4 linked regions of the Homo sapiens genome follow. The protein of the gene in region 1 interacts with the protein of each later gene in a biochemical or structural test. Each region holds a gene or a part of one and is shown in the gene's direction. Other genes may lie near its edges.

What was found. Proteins that work in one complex are often made in the same cells at the same time.
Region 2: the proteins of TJP3 (region 1) and SSTR5 interact in a test that uses a peptide from one of them, tested with the Homo sapiens proteins (one large-scale study listed by IntAct).
Region 3: the proteins of TJP3 (region 1) and DACT1 interact in a test that uses a peptide from one of them, tested with the Homo sapiens proteins (one large-scale study listed by IntAct).
Region 4: the proteins of TJP3 (region 1) and SLC9A3 interact in a test that uses a peptide from one of them, tested with the Homo sapiens proteins (one large-scale study listed by IntAct).

The regions. Positions count from the first base shown.
Region 1 is NC_000019.10:3,724,908-3,729,475, forward strand, and holds part of TJP3 (tight junction protein ZO-3), read left to right. Parts: intron 1-3,516; coding exon of another isoform or gene 3,517-3,525; coding exon 3,526-3,573; intron 3,574-3,696; coding exon 3,697-3,806; intron 3,807-4,568. UniProt on the Homo sapiens protein: TJP1, TJP2, and TJP3 are closely related scaffolding proteins that link tight junction (TJ) transmembrane proteins such as claudins, junctional adhesion molecules, and occludin to the actin cytoskeleton.
Region 2 is NC_000016.10:1,071,500-1,076,137, forward strand, and holds the start of SSTR5 (somatostatin receptor type 5), read left to right. Parts: upstream 1-1,247; 5' UTR 1,248-1,323; intron 1,324-4,638.
Region 3 is NC_000014.9:58,636,630-58,641,352, forward strand, and holds the start of DACT1 (dapper homolog 1), read left to right. Parts: upstream 1-1,332; 5' UTR 1,333-1,573; coding exon 1,574-1,918; intron 1,919-2,207; exon of another isoform or gene 2,208-2,633; intron 2,634-2,783; exon of another isoform or gene 2,784-2,862; intron 2,863-4,106; coding exon 4,107-4,239; intron 4,240-4,723.
Region 4 is NC_000005.10:471,859-475,954, reverse strand, and holds part of SLC9A3 (sodium/hydrogen exchanger 3 isoform 1 precursor), read left to right. Parts: intron 1-283; coding exon 284-394; intron 395-635; exon of another isoform or gene 636-818; intron 819-822; coding exon 823-1,072; intron 1,073-2,555; exon of another isoform or gene 2,556-2,572; coding exon 2,573-2,576; 3' UTR 2,577-4,096. UniProt on the Homo sapiens protein: Plasma membrane Na(+)/H(+) antiporter. Exchanges intracellular H(+) ions for extracellular Na(+) in 1:1 stoichiometry, playing a key role in salt and fluid absorption and pH homeostasis.

The DNA.
Region 1 (4,568 bases):
AAATAAGCTCAGAAGAAAAAGAGTAAATAATCAGAAAGCCACTGTAGCCTGGTGGTTAAGAGCAAGAGTGAGGCTGGGTGCGGTGGCTCACGCCTGTAATTCCAACACTTTAGGAGGCTGAGGTGGGAGGATCGCTTGGGCCCAGGAATTTGAGACCAGCTTGGTCAACATAGCAAAACCCCATCTCTACAAAAAAACAAAAAAATATGCTGTGTGTGGTGGTGCATGCCTGTGGTCCCAGCTACCTGGGAGGCTGAAGCAGGAGGATCCCTTGGGCCTGGGAGTTCAAGGCTGCAGTGAGCTGTGATTGAGCCACTGCACTCCAGCCTGGGCAACAGAGTGAAACCCCGTCTCAAAAACCAAACAACCAATCAACCAACCAACCAACCAAAAAAGAGCCAGAGAACAGGGCAGGCTGCCAAGTTCACCACTGTGCTGCGTGACCTCAGGCAAGTTACTGAACCTCTCTAGGCCCCTTTTAATCTCACCTCTAAAGTAGGAATAATAACTGTGCCACTTCCTAAGGTCACTCTGAGGATGAAATGAATGGGTCCACATCAAGCGCCTGCTTGCAGCCAGGTTCAAGACAGCCTGACCAACATGGTGAAACCCCGTCTCTACTAAAAATACAAAAAGTAGCTGGCTGTGGTTGTGGGTGCCTATAATCCCAGCTACTCGGGAGGCTGAGTCAGGAGAATAACTTGAACCCAGGAGGTGGAGGTTGCAGTGAGCCGAGACTACGCCATTGCACTCCAGCCTGGGCAACAAGAGCAAAAAACCCCATCTCAAAAAAAAAAAAAAAAACTACACAAGGAGAAAGTCATTATTTGGCCACCACCTCCCCAAGGCTCCTTCTGCTTTTTGCTTTTCAGGCATTGAATCTGTACCCTTTTCCCAAACCACATCCCTGCAAGACAGGGCAGCAGTGCCATTTCACAGATGGGGAGACTGAGGCTGGGAGAGGCCCCGCCATAGCTAGCACGGGTGGGCAGACTTGGGATTTGAGTCCAGTCCTGAGCGCTGCCCTGGCTCCTTCAGAACTGCAGAGCCCTGCCCTCTGCTCTGTTTCTCTCCCCTCCACCCGCCTTCCCACTCCTGGAGATCAGGAATGCTGGCCTCGCTAGAGACGCTGGAGCTTATAAGAAAAGGCACTGGAGCGCACCAATGGGGGGTGCCTGGGCAGAGGGAATCACACACCCGCTGTGCCAAGCCTAGAAAACCCGCCCCGGGGAGGAGGAGGAGTCACTTCTACAAACTCCCTCCCCACTCCCTCCACCTGTCCCCTGCCTGGGGAGCAGGGCATGGTGCGTGCTGGCAGGAGGGAAGGGAGGGTGGAGGCGTGGCCAGGTGACCTTGCACCTGAGTCTGGTGTTCTCATTCATGCCATGGACATGAAAATAACAGAATCTGCCTGGTGTGGAGGCTCACGCCTGTAATCCCAGCACTTTGGGAGGCCAAGGCGGGCGGATCACTTGAAGTCAGGAGTTCAAGATCAGCCTGGCCAACATGGTGAGACCCCCGTCTCTATTAAAAATACAAAAATTAGCTGGGCATGGTGGTAGACACCTGTGATCCCAGCTACTTGGGAGGCTGAGGCAGGAGAATCGCTTGAAACTAGGAGGCAGAGGTTGCAGTGAGCCAAGTTGGCACCATTGCACTCCAGCCTCAGCAACAGAGTTTTTTTTGTTTTTTTTTTTTCTAAGTGGGAAAGCCCAGGTGGGAGGATCATTTGAGCCCAGGAGTTCAAGAAGAGTCTGGGCAACACAGCAAGACCCTCCTGTCTCTATAAAAATAGAAGTTAAAAAATTAGCTGGGCATGATGGTATGCACCTATAGTCCCAGTTACTCAGGAGGCTGGGGCAGGAGGATTGCTTGAAGCCAGGAGTTCGAGGCTGCAGTGAGCCATAATGGCTCACACTTGTAATCCCAGCACTTTGGGAGGCCAAGGCTGGAGAATCACTTGAGCCTAGGAGTTTGAGACCAGCCTTGGCAACACAGAGAGACTCCATCTCTACAAACAATAAAAAAAATTAGCCGGGCATCGTGATGTGTGCCTGTGGTCCCAGTTACTTGGGAGGCAGAGGTGGGAGGATCACTTGAGCCTGGGAGTTCGAGGCTGCATTGAACCGTGATCACACCACTGCACTCCAGCCTGAGTGACAGAGACCCTGTCTAAAAAAAAAAAAGTGTGGGAGGGGGGACTTCATGGCTCTGTGCCTCAGTTTCCTCATCTGTAACATGGGGATAATTGAATGCACCTTTGATGAATGTATTAAATGAGATAGTACATGTAAGGCTGGGCGCGGTGGCTCATGCCTGTAATCCCAGCACTTTGGAAGGCCAAGGGGGTGGATCACAAGATCAGGAGTTCGAGACCAGCCTGGCCAACATAGTGAAACCCCGTCTCTACTAAAAATTCAAAAAAATTAGCTGGGCATGGTGGCACATGCCTGTAGTCCCAGATACTTGGGATGCTGAGGCAGGAGAATCACTTGAACCTGGAAGGCGGAGGTTGCAGTGAGCCAAGATCACGCCATTGCACTCCAGCCTGGGCAACAAGAGCGAAACTCTGTCTCAAAAAAAAAAAAAAAAAAAGAGATAGTACATGTAAAGCACCTGGCACAAAGGAAGTGTTTCATTCATTCACTCATTAATTCATTCAGCAAATCCTTCTTGAATCCCTGCTGCAACTCAGGCGCTGTTCTAGGCAGGGAACTGAGGGCTCAGTTTTGGACAAAGACAAAAATCTCTGCCCTCTGTGGGTGGATCAGTTGAGGTCAGGAGTTTGAGACCAGCCTGGCCAACATGGTGAAATCCCGTCTCTACTAAAAATAGAAAAATTAGCCTGGCGTGGTGGTGGGCACCTGTAGGTGCCCAGCTACTCAGGAGCCCAGCTACTCAGGAGGCCAGTAGGCAGCCAGCTACTCAGGAGGCTGAGGCAGGAGAATCACTTGAACTTGGGAGGCAGAGACTGCAGTGAGCAGAGATTGTGCCACTGCACTCCAGCCTGGGCAACAGAATGAGACTCCGCCTCAAAAAAAACAAAACAAGGCTGGGCACAGTGACTCACCCCTGTAATCCCAGCACTTTGGGAGGCCGAGGTGGGTGGATCACTTGAGGCCAGAAGTTAAAGGCCAGTCTGGCCAATGTGGTGAAACCCTATCTCTATTAAAAATATAAAGATTAGCCAGGTGTGGTGGTGCACCCCTGTAATCCCAGCTACCTGGGAGGCTGAGGCAGGAGAATCGCTTGAACCCGGGAGGTGGAGGTTGCAGTGAGCTGAGATCGTGCCACTGCACTCCAGCCTGGGCGACAGAGCCAGACTCTGTCTCAAAAAATGAAACAAAACAAAAAAACAAACAAAAAAACCTGAGGCCCTGAGAGAGGTAGTAACTTGTCACAGGCTCCAAACACAGGCCTGTCAGAGCTGGACTCCCCACCCTGAGCTGGGGACCCCCAAGTGCTCAGATGAACCTGTGTGGCCTCATGCCCATCTTCCCCGCTCCCCTCGACCAGGTGGCTGACATGGAGGAGCTGACCATCTGGGAACAGCACACGGCCACACTGTCCAAGGTGAGGCCTCCCTCTCCCTGTCTGGGTGCCAGAGAGTATGGCGGCTTAGGCCCAGCTCAATAGAGGGGAGACCCTTTACCCTGGGGGAAACAGCAGCTCTTCCTTCCCCTCATCCTCTCTCAGGACCCCCGCCGGGGCTTTGGCATTGCGATCTCTGGAGGCCGAGACCGGCCCGGTGGATCCATGGTTGTATCTGACGTGGTACCTGGAGGGCCGGCGGAGGGCAGGCTACAGTGAGTATCCAGGCAGCTGGGTTCTGGCGGGGGAGGGCACGTGGAGAGGAGAAACCAGGCCAGGCACAGTGACTCACACCCGTCATCCCAGCACTTTGCGAGGCTGAAGTGGGCGGATCACCTGAGTTCAGGAGTTTGAGACCAGCCTGGCCAACATGGTGAAACCCCGTCTCTACTAAAATTACAAAAATTAGCGGGATGTGGTAGCGTGTTCCTGTAATCCCAGCTACTCGGGAGGCTGAGGCAGGAGACTTGCTTGAACCCGGGAGGCAGAGGTTGCGGTGAGCCAAGATTGCGCCACTGCACTCCAGCCTGGGTGACAGAGTGAGACTCTGTCTCAAAAAGAAAGTAAGTGAGGTGAGGAGAAACCTTTGTGAGCCTGGCACTTTCCAGCTCTGTCAACACAGGGCTCGGACTTGGCAGTAGGACAGTGTCAGAGACTTGGGCCTCACTTCCCTAAGGTACTTCCTGGTCCTTCACAGGAATTCTTGGGGTCATAGTGGCCCCAGAGCCCTTTTGGAACATAAAGTCCTGGAAACCATCGAGTGTTTGAGGGTTTGATGCTTCTTGGAATTATGTTGTTAAAATGGTTCTGGGCCCCAAGTGGCTGACAGGTGATATGGCTCAGCCCAGCCCAGAATTAGGGACCACCAGGTTCAGAGAGAAAGAGCTAGAAAGAAAATATGAAATACAGACAGGAAGAGAGGGAAAGAAAAGCAGAAAGTGGGGATTTGTGGTGTGGGGAGCGAGGAGTGAGAAGAT
Region 2 (4,638 bases), on another chromosome or scaffold:
GAGGGATACAGCCCAGGTACCTCCAGAGAGGATGGAAAGGCTTATGGGGCGGATTCTGGGCAGGGGACCTGGGACCAGCCTGCAGCCTCCCCTGAGGGCCTGGCCATGGCCGCAGGCTGGGGAGGAGGGGAGGGGACCTTGGGGCCAGGTGCCATGGTCCTCTAAGCACTCTTGCTCGATGGTAAACATAACACGCGCTGCTTGCAGAACATGTGGAAACACTGAAACGCTTAAAGGAGAGAACATGGTCCCGGTACCCGGCCTTCAAGGGAGCTGCTGGCGCCTGTTCAACAGGAGCCGACCCCACCTGTGAACAGACGGCAGGCGGCTGCTCCCATGTCCCCTCAGAGAGGGGCCCTCCGAGTTCTGCTGTCACCTGGGGGCGCCTCACTTCATTCAGCCAGTGGCGGGGCTCCCTGGGTCGGCACAGAGTCAGGGGAGGGGGCTGGGGGACCTCCTGGTGGGAAAATGTCCGGTGATCCCCAGCCTCCGCGCTCAGCGGGAGGAGGCGCTCGGTCCCGCTTCTTACAACCAGCGGCGCTCACGGCGGGCCCGGGGATCAGCATCCCGGGAGCTTCTCAGGAATGCAGATTCCCAGGCCCTCACTGCCTGGGGAGTCGGGGGCCCAGCTCGAGGCCCAGGAATCTGCTTTGAGGACCCAGGTGACTCTGCTGCCTGCCTGAGAACCCCACCTTAGGTGAGGGACTAAGGTGTACCCATGGATTCATTTCAGGGGAAATAAAAAGAACAACTTAGCAGGTAGTCTATGCTTAAATATGTGTAGGATCCACAAATAAGGCATGGATAAAACCCGAGTGGAGTGTCCTGGAAATCCCACGACCACGGACCCCCCTCGCTGGGGCTGCCTGCCGCCCCCACCAGCCTCCACACACCCACTTATCTCCACAACCCCAGCCCACCCCTCAGAGACGTCTGCAGAGCCCCTGACCCTCTCCCCTTGAACAAGGACCCTCCACCCTCTTCAGACTCTCGACGAGGGACCCCCTGGACTCCTGCTGGCGGCAGGACCCCCACCCCAAGCTGGGGTCTACCACAGAGCGGACAGCAAGAAAATAGGGTGGGGGCGCAGGCGATCATGGGGTCACTGCCAGTGGGACCAGGGCTGTGGGCGAGTGCGCCAGGGTTCCCGGAGGCCAGACGTGGGACCCGGGAGTCGAGCAGGTGAAGCGGCCCTGCCCCGCCCCCACCAGGCACTGCCCCGCCCCCGCCCCGCCCCGCCCCCTCCCAGCCGGCGCCCGGGAGCCCGGAGCCAGTGCCGCGCGGACATCGGGGCTCCCCCGTTCAGAGGGCGCCGCCGCCCAGGTGAGTGCCGCCCGCCCCTGTCCCCCTCCCGCGCGGGCACCCCCTGCCCTCGGCTGTTATCCCCACTGGGGGTTTCACCCTGTGTGCGCAGCCCCGGCCCGGGGTCCCGCCGTGCGCCCCCAGCCCGCTGCACGCACTGTCCCCCACGCGCCCTCCGCACACCCGCGGGGCTCTCCTGCCGCCGCCGGGGGTCCCTCCCCTCCCGTTCCATCCACTCCCAGCAGCTCCATCCCTCCCATCTCCTGCCCCCACCCCACAACTCACCATCTGCAGGCACCCCGTGTGCCAGGGTCAGCCCAGAAGCCACAGGGGACCCAGATGGCCCCACTCTGCCCACCGCGCCGCTCCCGGCCTCTCCTCCCCACGACGGGGGCCACAGCGGGGCTGGCTCCTGGAGCTGGAGGAGGGTGGGTAAGGCTGGGGAGGGCTCGGAGCCTGGGGCTGGGGGCCGGAAGTGGCACTCAGGCCACAGGGAACCACTGGGCCACGGAAGGAGGGTCCCAGGGTGCCCGTGGCACCCAGCGAGGGGAGGATCCGCAATTTGGGTGCCGGGGGAGGCAACTGGTGCCTGCGCGCAGCTGGGTCGGTGAGCTCCTGGAAGGCAGCAGGCAGAGGCCAGCACCCAGGGGCCCTGTGACCTGGCACTCACAGATGGGTTCCCTGAAACCCAAGACTGGGGAGGCTGGGGTGCCACCCCGCCCGCTGCGAACAGAGCCCCCTCCTGTCCAAGGCACCGCGTGTACCTGGAATCCTCCTGGCGTCTTCACCCTCTCCAGAATAGAGAACACGCCACTGGGGTGTGTGCCCTTGGCCCTCCTCCCCCACCCCAGACCCACCCACGTGCCCGACCCGCTGTCCCCAGCCTGCCAGCCTGCCTGGGGCCCCCTCAAGGGCAAGAGAGCGGAGTGCATGGTGACAGAAGTTGGGGATGGTTCCAGTGAGGCTGAGCCCTTTCTGAAGGCAGTGATTCTGGACTATGTAGGTGGGGACTGCCAGAGCCTCCTGGGCAGAAACTGGTCAACAGCACCAAGGACAGGCGCCTGGCGTTGATTTCCAGAGCAAGACCCAGCGAGGCTGTCAGGAGGTGCCTGGTGTGGAGGGTGCCCCGAGAAGCGTTCGCGGAGCACGCGGGACCCCTGCTGCTGCTGCTCCAGGCTGGCCCACACCTGCCTCAGTTTCCCTCTCCTGGGGAGGGTATGTGCCCCTGGCCACAGGCTGCCGCAGGGACAGGTGGCGTGTATGTGGGGGACAGGCAGGGGTGCCATTGGCTGCACTCACAGAGCTGGACCCCAAGGGGGCAGTGGCCTGCCACCAGGCCACCCTTACGACAGAGGAAACAGGTCAGAACGCTTGTCCTGGGAGCACAGGCCTGGCTCCGGGGCCTTTGGAGGGGCTGGGGCCTGTAGTCTTAGCTAGGGTGTCCCCCGACGTTTGCCCCTGCCCAGCACACAATGGAGGAGCCCGGGTGGGTCTGCAGCCTCTCCAGGGTGCGGCGTGGGCCCCGGCCGTGTGAGCCGCTGCCTCCCCGAGCAGCAGGTTCCGCAGCCCCTCCAAGCTGCAGCCGCATCGCTGCCCCCCATGAAGGAGCCGACTCCCCGACCTCGTGCTGGGTTAGCCTGGAAGGAGTTGGCAGGGTGCAGGCTAGACCTCCACCCAGTCATGGAGGACTTGGTGCTGAGGCCCCGCCTCTGGTCCCAGGCCCCTGTGAAGACTGCCCCCTTCTCCGAGGAGCCCAGCGGCCTCCTGGATGCTGGGGAAATGCTGGGCTGCTTAGGGCAGCTTGTGGGAGCAATCGTTGAGCGCCCAGTGTATGCCAGCCCCGCTGTGGTCCCCGTCGTGGGGAGGTGAGGCCGGGAGCGGTGCTGTGGGCAGACTGGGGCCATCTGGGTCCCCTGTGGCTTCTGGGCTGACCCTGGCACACCGGGCACCTGCAGATGGTGAGTTGTGGGGTGGGGGCAGGAGATGGGAGGGATGGATGCTGCTGGGAGTGGATGCACGCAGCACCCTGCACACAGAAGCTCACTCAGTTTCATCAGCTCAGCAACCCTACAGTTTGCAGGAGTTGCCTATCCCAGAAGCTGGGCTCAGAGAAGCCCGTGACTTACCCCAGACCACGCAGCCCGTGTGGGGAGTGGTCAGGGGCCGGGGTCTCTCCCAGTGCCATGTCAGGCTGAGCAGATCCCTTCGTGGCCGAGGGCTCGGGATCAGAAAGCTCCTACTGCTGGCTCCCCCTCCAGTGAATCCCCCACCCACAAGGGACAGGGCCACCGGGACAATTCCCCGTGAGTGCGTAATTTTATGATTCAGAGGATACTGCTTCCAAATAACGGCTCTTGCAGAATTATGTTCCAAGAGTCAGGTACAGCAATAATGGTCTATTTGTGTCCTTTGCTGCTCTGAAGTCTAACTCCGGAGGTGGAGCACTGGGGGCCGCAGAGCCGGGGACCTGGCAGCCTGTGGAGCCCCTCGCTGGGCTCTGGGCATGGGAGTGGCCTTGGAGGAACCCTGAGGCTCCTCTGAAGCTAAGAAGCTACAAAGACAGGGAGGCTGAGGCAGGAGGATCACTTGAGCACAGGTCGAGGCTGCAGTGAGCTGTGATCACAGCACCACTTCGATCCAGCTCGGGCAACAGAGCAAGACCCCATCTCGAAAACAAAAAATCAAACAGGCATTTGGGAACCACACGTGCTGGGGACCCAGGGCCTGTGTTGGAGATGGACCGGAGCCCGACAGCCGCCCTCTCCCTGTCCCACCATCGGTGGCTCCTCTGTCCCCTCCACCTGGCCTCCTTGCTACGGAGGAATGGGCCGAAAGTGCCTCCCCAGGGAGGGTGCAGCTCAGAGGCCTCTGCACCTGGGCCGCCATCCCACCCACCTGGACTCCCACGCAGCCCGCGGGCTGTCTCCAGACCACTGTCCTTCCGGAATGCATGCTCCACAGGCAGCCAGAGGGAGCCGCAAACATGGCGTGTTGGATTTCCATGCTGGTCCCTGGGGAGCGGAGAGCCACAGGCCTCTTCCCCTCCCTCTCCCTCTCCCTCCCTCCCTCTCTCCCCCTACCCTGTCTCTCTCTCTCCCCCCCCACTCTCTCTCCCTCCCTCTCTCCCCCCACCCTGTCTTTCTCTCTCCCTCCCCACCTCCCCCTCTCTCTCCCTCCCCCTCCTCCCCCTCCCTCTCCCCCCACCTTTTCTCTCTCCCTCCCCACCTCCCCCTCCCTCTCCCTCCCCCCTCACCTCCCCTCCCTTTCCCTCCCTCTCTCCCTCTCTCCTCCCCTCCCCCTCCCTCTCCCTCCCTCTCTCCCTCTCTCCTCCCCGCC
Region 3 (4,723 bases), on another chromosome or scaffold:
TAGCACGGGTAAGCAGATGGGCAAAAGTGCAAGTGTCTGAAATAATGATATAGGATGCACTCTTTCACACAACACTTTGCCTGAACTTCAGCAATTGTGACTTGCTGGATTGAATTTCCGAGGTTCTTGGATGTACTGCTTTTAAAGATATATGTGGTACTTTTCCACAGATAAGCCAGCTAGTGGAATTTTCAGACCCCTATCCCACCGGAAATTTCAGTGGGATAGGGGTCTGGAGTAGTGTGTTCCAAGCAGAGATGACCAATACATGATACTTCAAGAGGGAAGACTTATAAATCCCTCTGGAGAAAAGCTACAACTCATATCACCTTTACTATCTATGTGCTAGCCACGTTGTAAGTGCACAGCCCCCACAATATATAGCATATGCTGCATACTATTATAATTCTTCAACAGCAGGTTCCCATAGCAGCTGCTCCCTTTTACAGTGGGGGGAACGTACACAGAGAAGGGAGTAAGTTGCCCGCACAGCTATTTAGGGGTGAAACTGGGATACAAATCCAGACAGTCTGATTTCTGAGTCAGAGCTCTTATTGTAAACGCAGACTAAGTAATAATAAAAGCTCAAACAAAAACCAAAGCGCGCACGCGCGCGCACTCAAATCGTAGGCTTGTAAAAGAATTGATGCAACCTCTCGCTATACAACGACATCCTCCTGCCTAATTTTAAATGCCGTCCATCGTAAGACCGACGTTAAAAAATTAAAACGACAACAAAACTTAAGTTTTAGAACACTGCATTGTGCTCTGTATTGCTTGCCTTTACAAAGTGGAGTTAAGGAACCAACCCCACAGTGTCTGTGAATACACTTGCAATACCTTGCTTGGGAAGTGAAAGAAACCTAACTCGGTGTGAGTGGAAATGAGGAGTGGCCGTGTGGGGAAAGGGTTAAGACTGTGCTGCAACTTGGTCGAGTTTCAGAAAGTTCTCCGGAGAGCCCAACTGCCGCGTCCCGTCGCGGCCCCTGCCTGCGCGGCCGACTGTAACAGGATGCTGGGGCTCCAGGCGCTCGCCCCGAGCTTTGGGCGACGAGAAAGAGCCAATGAGGAGCGAGGGCAAAATCGGGTGCAGTAAACCCGAAAAGGGGGCGAGGAGGCCCGCGAAGAGAGCGGGGGAGGAGGCGGGGAGGGGCGAGGAGGGGCGGGGAGGGCCGAGCGAGGAGGAGGCGGCTCTGGGGGCCGGGCGGCGCGCCTGACAGAGGAGGGGAAGCCTGGGGGCGCAAGCGTCGCAGCCGAGGGGCCGGCGCGGGGAGGCGGGCGCCAGGCGGGGGTTTGCAGGGCCGCCGCGCGTGACGTAGCGCCGGGCAGGGCGTTATCAGCTGCCGGGCCGCGGCGAGGGACGCGCGGCGACAGCGGACGGCGCTGCCCGGGCCGGGACAGCAGCAGCCGGCGGTCGCGCGCAGGACTCGAGGGCTTCTAGCCACCGTCCCCGCCAGCGCCGCGCCCCGCCACAGGGCGGCATGAGCCCACCCGCGGCCGCAGCCCTAGCGCCCTGCTCCTCCGCCTGGGCGGCCCGGCTGCGGTGACGGCTCTCGCTGCCCGACTGGGGGCCATGAAGCCGAGTCCGGCCGGGACGGCGAAGGAGCTGGAGCCTCCGGCGCCGGCCCGAGGCGAGCAGCGCACGGCGGAGCCCGAGGGGCGCTGGCGGGAGAAGGGCGAGGCAGACACCGAGCGGCAGCGCACCCGGGAGCGGCAGGAGGCCACGCTGGCCGGGCTGGCGGAGCTGGAGTACCTGCGCCAGCGCCAAGAGCTGCTGGTCAGGGGCGCCCTGCGCGGCGCCGGGGGTGCGGGAGCCGCTGCGCCCCGCGCTGGGGAGCTACTGGGGGAGGCGGCGCAGCGCAGTCGCCTGGAGGAGAAGTTCTTGGAGGAGAACATCTTGCTGCTAAGAAAGCAATTGGTAGGTCGTGCCCGAAGGTGGAGCACGGCTGTTCCTGCCCAGGGGCTGGAGGTCGGGCAGGTGGCCTGGGGCGGGCGCGAGGTTGACTCTGGCTGGGGAGATGCTCGCTGTTATGGGACGCCCCCGACCGCCCCATACCTCCCTGATCCCCTTCCTGAGTGCCCGCGGCGTGTGGGCTGCCGACGCCCACGCGTTTCTGGCGTGTGCCCGCTTTGTGTCTGGCGACCTCGCGCGGATTGCGGGAAGGGGGTGGCCGCTCTTCCCTCCTCCTCTGCCTTCGGGATTCTTGGAGTCGCCTAGTTCTAACGTTCGGTCTCCTTAGTTAGATGAGTATATGCCCTCTCCCCAGCGGTTTGCAAACTCCCACTTAAAATACCATTTTATTTGGAGGTTTTCTTGACTTTATCTCCTCCCGCCGAGAGGGGCCAAAAGCCAAGGAGGGGGTTTGTGGCGTGCTTAACTGTCCAGGGCCGAGTTTTACGATTACACTGGAGCGCCTGTAGGGAGCCGTGCCTCTCCGAGAGCTCTCCCCAGCATGCCAGCTTTCACCCAGGCTGGTGCTTAATTTCAAATAGAAGCCCTTTGTATAAGGCAGCTCAAACTAGATGGAAATGATGGAAATTTGGCTGGAGACTGTGTCCCCTCCTCTCATATTTTATACGTTCTGCCAGCTGTGATTGGTGGTGGAGGTGGGAGAAAAGAGAACCTGCTCTCGGTAAGCATTTATCTTACTGGGTTTCTGTCAGTGTCTCAGTCTTTCTATGCAGTCTTCATTAATGGGGAAGAAAAAGAACTTTGTAGCTTAATGTATTGATGAACAGCTTTTGACCCCGCCTCAGAATAATGGCGACAGCTTTGTTTTCAGTGACCTTAAAATGTAGTTTTGGAAACAGCAAACGTCCTCACCTGACCAAGTGATACTATCTAAACTAGACACATGCCAGGTAGTGGCCCTCCCACAATAAAGTGGTGATGCTGTGCAGTTGTCATGTGTTTTCTTCTATTATCTCTTTTCAGATCATTTCTTTTCTCTGTGTGTGTGTGTGTGTTTTTAAGCACCAAAGTGCTTTTACTTGATAGGTTCATTTTTCCTGAAGAAATTAATTGTAGCAAACAAACATACAATTTATGTCTCCAAGCTTTTTAAGTCAAAAGACAAGAGGCGTAGATATTCATATGCATGTGTTTTGTAAGGATGTACACTGTGGTTTGTGTAATATCTCTGTTTTGGCATTTTACTGTGCTGCTTCGGTCACAGACCAGATTCCTATGTAACATTCATTTGAGCCAGTTCTCACTGGTTATGGCTGGTGACTTTTACATTTTATTGTTTTGTGCAATTGCACCTTTTTGTCTGCATGAATCTCAAGATTGTAAGTGGCGCATTCCTATTGTCCGCTTGAGGGGAGCAAAGCAGTATGTCAAGAGAATTCCAGTCCAGTCAGTATTTATGGTACTATTTTCATTTGTAGACTTGGCATTCATGATTTGAACCAGATGCTTTTTGAGTTCTCCCGTTTTTCCAGCAATAGGAAGCACTAGGTGGCAGTGTGAGTTAGCACAATCCATCTGTCACCTTTGGAAACCCAGAGGCGTTCAAATCTCGATGGGCCTTCCCATGAGGGTTTTGGATTCTGCCAGCTCACATTATACTTGGCACTGGCTATTAGTATTAGTTTCTCACTTTCAAAGGCTCTAAGACTGATTAAACCCCACAAAGCAACTAATAGAAAACAAAACTCTGCAGGCCAAGACATTTGGCCAGAAAATCTCACCTAAGATTATAGTGTATTATAGGAAATCTCTTACTCTCATTTCAAATTAAAGAGTCTACTGTGAAGTATTGTTTTTTAAAAGACTGGTTATACACCAGATGATTTAAAGTCTCAGTCCATTTTTCTTGTCCCTATCTATGAAAAGTCAGTTTGTATATATTAGTTGAAACTAAAAACAAGTCTTGTTTTTATGAAGAAACTTTATATCACCACAAAATGTGAGAAAGTGGAATTAAACATAGGACATATTCTTGAATTCTCGAAGTTTTTCGTTACTTCAGGTCATCCAGTAAAATTTTGGTTTTCTAAGTTTAGTGAACTCTTCAGATGGGTAATTTGAATCCTTAGAGTAGACTTTCTGGTTCTTTTGTCACCCCTGTATGTTCATGTTTCCTTTGTTTCTTCCTAATCAGAACTGTTTGAGGCGAAGAGATGCTGGTTTGTTGAATCAGTTGCAAGAGCTTGACAAGCAGATAAGTGACCTGAGACTGGATGTAGAAAAGACATCTGAAGAGCACCTGGAGACAGACAGTCGGCCTAGCTCAGGTGAGTGATTGAGCACAAGGACAGAATTCTGCACTCTTGAGTTGTATCTCAGCCCCTTGTGGTTAACATTCCCAGACCTGCAAATGGCAATGGAGTTTGTTTCCAGTGCAGAGAGGATAAACAAAAAAGAAGTCTGCCATTCAGTTTTATCGGAATAAGAGGGAAATAAACTCAGACAACAAAATTTTTAGTAATGAGATCAATGTGATTGGAGTCCCCCAAGTTTAAAAATAAAAGCTATTCAAATTTCTGCAAGAGGTGCCCTCCTTTGAAACTTGAGTAAGTCAGAACTGGGCTAGAAAATTAGTCACACTTCAACTTCCTGAGACCACTTCAAAAGTTTTTTTTTTTTTTCTTTTAAACCATTTGGGCTCCTTAGATTTTTCTCTTATTATTGTTCTGAAACAATCATGATAAAGATGAGGCTTGACAGATCTAAGTTTCTTTCCTTGGACATGTTCAAAGGCGGGGTCAAGGAATAAGG
Region 4 (4,096 bases), on another chromosome or scaffold:
GGCTCGGGAACCTCCCCTCTCAGGACCTTCCCCTCTGGGGACCCTCCAGCCACCCAGGCAGGGGAGGCATGGTCAGGGCCCCAGCTGCAGACCCACCCAGGATGGGGTTCCAGGGACACTGCCCTCTAAGTGGGGTCCCTCCTCCAGCCCTGCGGTTTAGCCCTCCTCTCTGTGGGTCCCGACTGCCTGCACCTCTGTGCACAGAGCTGATGGACACTGCTGACTGGGCTGTGAGGACAGCCCCCCAGTGACCCCAGTCCTCACCCCAACCTGTCTTCCCCAGACTTGGAACTTTCAGACACCGAGGAGCCCCCCAACTATGATGAGGAGATGAGTGGGGGGATCGAGTTCCTGGCTAGTGTCACCAAGGACACAGCGTCCGACTCCCCTGCAGGTGGGGACGGGGCACAGGCGTCGTGGCTAAGGGAGGGGTGGCTCCTGCCGCCCCAGGAGGGAGCTCGGTCATTGGACCAGGGGCACTGGGACCTGGGGGGGTGGGGTCTCCTGTGGGTTCTCAAGGGCCCTGCTTGGCACCCACTGAGTGCCCCCTCAACCAACTCGGAGGCTGCTGTCCGGGGAGACGTGGGCCGGGCAGGGAGCAGGTGGGGTATGTCTTGAGGGAAGCGAGACGTTACCTGTGCTGCCTGTGGCGTGTGGGGTCATGGATGTGGGGGAAGGGCCCGCAACCTGAAAGGCACGTGACCCTAACCTTCCCGGTGACCCTAACTTTCCAAGGCACCCAGCAGGTGACGGCCCCGGCGAGGTCTCCCCTGCCGCCGTGGGGCTCTCCGAAGGCTGACTAGCCGCTGCCCTCTCTCCTAGGAATTGACAACCCTGTGTTTTCTCCGGACGAGGCCCTGGACCGCAGCCTCCTGGCCAGGCTGCCGCCCTGGCTGTCTCCCGGGGAGACGGTGGTCCCCTCGCAGAGGGCCCGCACGCAGATTCCCTACTCTCCCGGCACCTTCTGCCGCCTGATGCCCTTCCGCCTCAGCAGCAAGTCCGTGGACTCCTTCCTGCAGGCAGACGGCCCCGAGGAGCGGCCCCCCGCCGCCCTCCCCGAGTCCACACACATGTAACGCTCCCGGGCCTCCCGCCGCCTAACCCCTCTCCGCAGCTCCTCTCCCTCCAGGTCTCCGCCTCGCGCGCGCTGTCTCTCTCCCTCCCCGCCTAACCCCTCTCCGCAGCTCCTCTCCCTCCAGGTCTCCGCCTCGCGCGCGCTGTCTCTCTCCTCCCTGGACCTGAACCTGGCTCGCTCTCTCTCTCCCCGCCTAACCCCTCTCCGCAGCTCCTCTCCCTCCAGGTCTCCGCCTCGCGCGCGCTGTCTCTCTCCTCCCTGGACCTGAACCTGGCTCTCTCCCTCCCCGCCTAACCCCTCTCCGCAGCTCCTCTCCCTCCAGGTCTCCGCCTCGCGCGCGCTGTCTCTCTCCTCCCTGGACCTGAACCTGGCTCGCTCTCTCTCTCTCCCCGCCTAACCCCTCTCCGCAGCTCCTCTCCTCCAGGTCTCCGCCTCGCGCGCGCTGTCTCTCTCCTCCCTGGACCTGAACCTGGTTCTCTCTCTCCCTCCCCGCCTAACCCCTCTCCGCAGCTCCTCTCCCTCCAGGTCTCCGCCTCGCGCGCGCTGTCTCTCTCCTCCCTGGACCTGAACCTGGCTCGCTCTCTCTCTCTCCCCGCCTAACCCCTCTCCGCAGCTCCTCTCCTCCAGGTCTCCGCCTCGCGCGCGCTGTCTCTCTCCTCCCTGGACCGGAACCTGGTTCTCTCTCTCCCTCCCCGCCTAACCCCTCTCCGCAGCTCCTCTCCCTCCAGGTCTCCGCCTCGCGCGCTCGCTCTCTCTCCTCCCTGGACCTGAACCTGGCGCGCTCTCTCTCTCCAGCAGCCCCTCTTCCTCCTCTAGCGCCCTGCTGGCCGCACCTCCCTCAGGAGCCCGGACAGAGATACTCTGGCGTCTCTGCTGCTCCCACGGAGCTGAGGGCACTAGGGCCGCCTGAGATTTCCTTTAGGTGGCTCCGAAAGCTAGTCCGCGAGTCCAAATCCTGCGCTCCCAGGGAGCTGAGAGCAGGGCTGGGGGAAGCCAGACAGACGCCCCGGGTCCCCGACCCTCTCACAGGGATACAGGGAGGGCCGGCCCCGCAGACCCGGACTCTGCCTCCAGCTCAGAGCAGGGAGAGGGGCGGGCCGTGGGGTCTGGGCTTTCTGAGCTCCCTCTGGGGGCCTGGGAGGCACCCGGGGGACGCCAGGGCGGTTTGAGATGGAGGAAGCAGGTCCCCTTGGGGACCTTGACCTCCCGCGCTGCAGGGCCTGGGGCGGGACCTTCCTGCGCCGAGGAGGCCGCTGTCCCGGGACCCCCGGCGGGGGGACGTGGCGGGGCCGGGCTGGGGCTTCGCTGTTGCTGCTTCCGCCTCTGCCCCGCGAACCCGGGTCCTGGGAGGAGGCCCCAGCGGACGCCGAGCCTGGGGTGCGCCGCGGGAGGGGAGGCGAGAGCCGCCGGGCTCGGGGACAGCTGAGGCCCCCGGGGACGCCCCTCCCGCCCCAGCGCCCGGGCTCCGCGCGCCGCTCACGCCTTCCTCTCCCGCAGGTGACACCGGCTCCGACACGCCGCTAACCGGCCGCTCGTCCCCGCGCCACGGTCCGCCCACCGCCGCCGCCGCTGTCCCAGAGAAACCCCAGATCCCCGCGCGGCTACAGCGACCGCGAGCCCCGAGCCCCGCCTCGCCCACGCCAGCGCCTGCGCAGAACTCCGAGAGTGCCGCGCCTGCGCCCGCAGAGCCGCCCGAGGGCGAGCCGGGGGCGGGGCCTGCGCCGGGGGCGGGGCCGGAGCGCCGAGGGCTGCCGAGTGCGCACGCGCGTTCGGCGGCGGCGCGCCGCGTGCACAGCCGGCGCTCGTTCCAGCGGCCTCGCGCGCGCCGCCGCCCCGCGCTGCTGAAGCTGGCGTCGCTGCCGCCCTCGTGCCACGCACCGCCGCACGCGCTGGAGCAGGAGGAGACGCCGCTGTGACGCCGCCGGCGGGAAGGGTCCGCGCGCCATGGCTGGCCGCTCGCGCCCTTTCCCACCGCTGCCGGGAAACCGAGGCTCGCCCCAAACGGATTTGCGTGAAACCAGCCCAAGGTTCCGGGCCCCCCCAACCGAGCCCCGCGCCCGGGGACTGACTCGGGGACCGACTCAGGGACCTCCCGAGCGCCAGGACTCAGGGCCCGACCTGCAGCGGCTGCAGGCCCAGCGCCCGCAAGCGGCCTGGGCCGAGCGCCGTTTCCAGGCCCTCGCCAGGTCTTTGAACTGCAGGTAAAGTGGCAGGAACGTCTTCCGTCTGCTCAGCGTTTGGGGATTTAGACTCCTAAAGCCAGTACCTGCCCCGTTTCCCCCCCAGGTTCCGTCCTGCCCGCGCCCGGTCTCAGGGTGGCGGCCCCGGACACGGCCCGTCCCCACAGACGAGGTCTCCGGCCTGAGCTGTCGCACCTGGCGCGGAGGTCGCCCGGGGTGCCCTGGCTGGGTGAGAGGTGGCCTGGCGGGCGGAGCTTGCCAAGAATCACGGCCAGTCCTTAAGTGGATGGTGGGGCCCAGCAGCTGCTCTGTCCCCCTTAACAAACCAGGGGGCATGGAGGGGCCCAGGGCACCGCCCCCCTACCAGGCTCAGGCCCTCCAAGGAGAACCTGCTGAGACCCCTGAGCCTGTCCTAGACCCCGGACCCCTGACCCTTCCCACCCCTTCCAGCGTCCCAGGGCGAGGCCTTGGACAGAGCTCCTGGTCCTCTGCAGGGAGACCATCCAGCCCAAGCTCTGGGAGGCACAGTCCATTGAGTGGGCGGAGGCCGCGGGTGCTGAGCCGGGGAGGGTGCTCGGAGTCCATCCATCCCTCAGACGGCAAGTCCCACAGGGTCCAACCCACCTGAAACCTGCCTGCACGGTGGAAGTGGTGGAGGTGGACACTCCTAGGGGCTTTTCTAAAGCTAGACTCGCAGCTCCTTGCTCAGGAAAATTAAACTATTCACGTTTCAGATCAAGTGTTGACAGTCACCAGTCAGGAGGAGTTCTTAAAGAGTTTTATGTTGACTGAATATTGCACATTGAGTCCCCATTGAGTCCCTGGTGGGAAAAGTCCACAA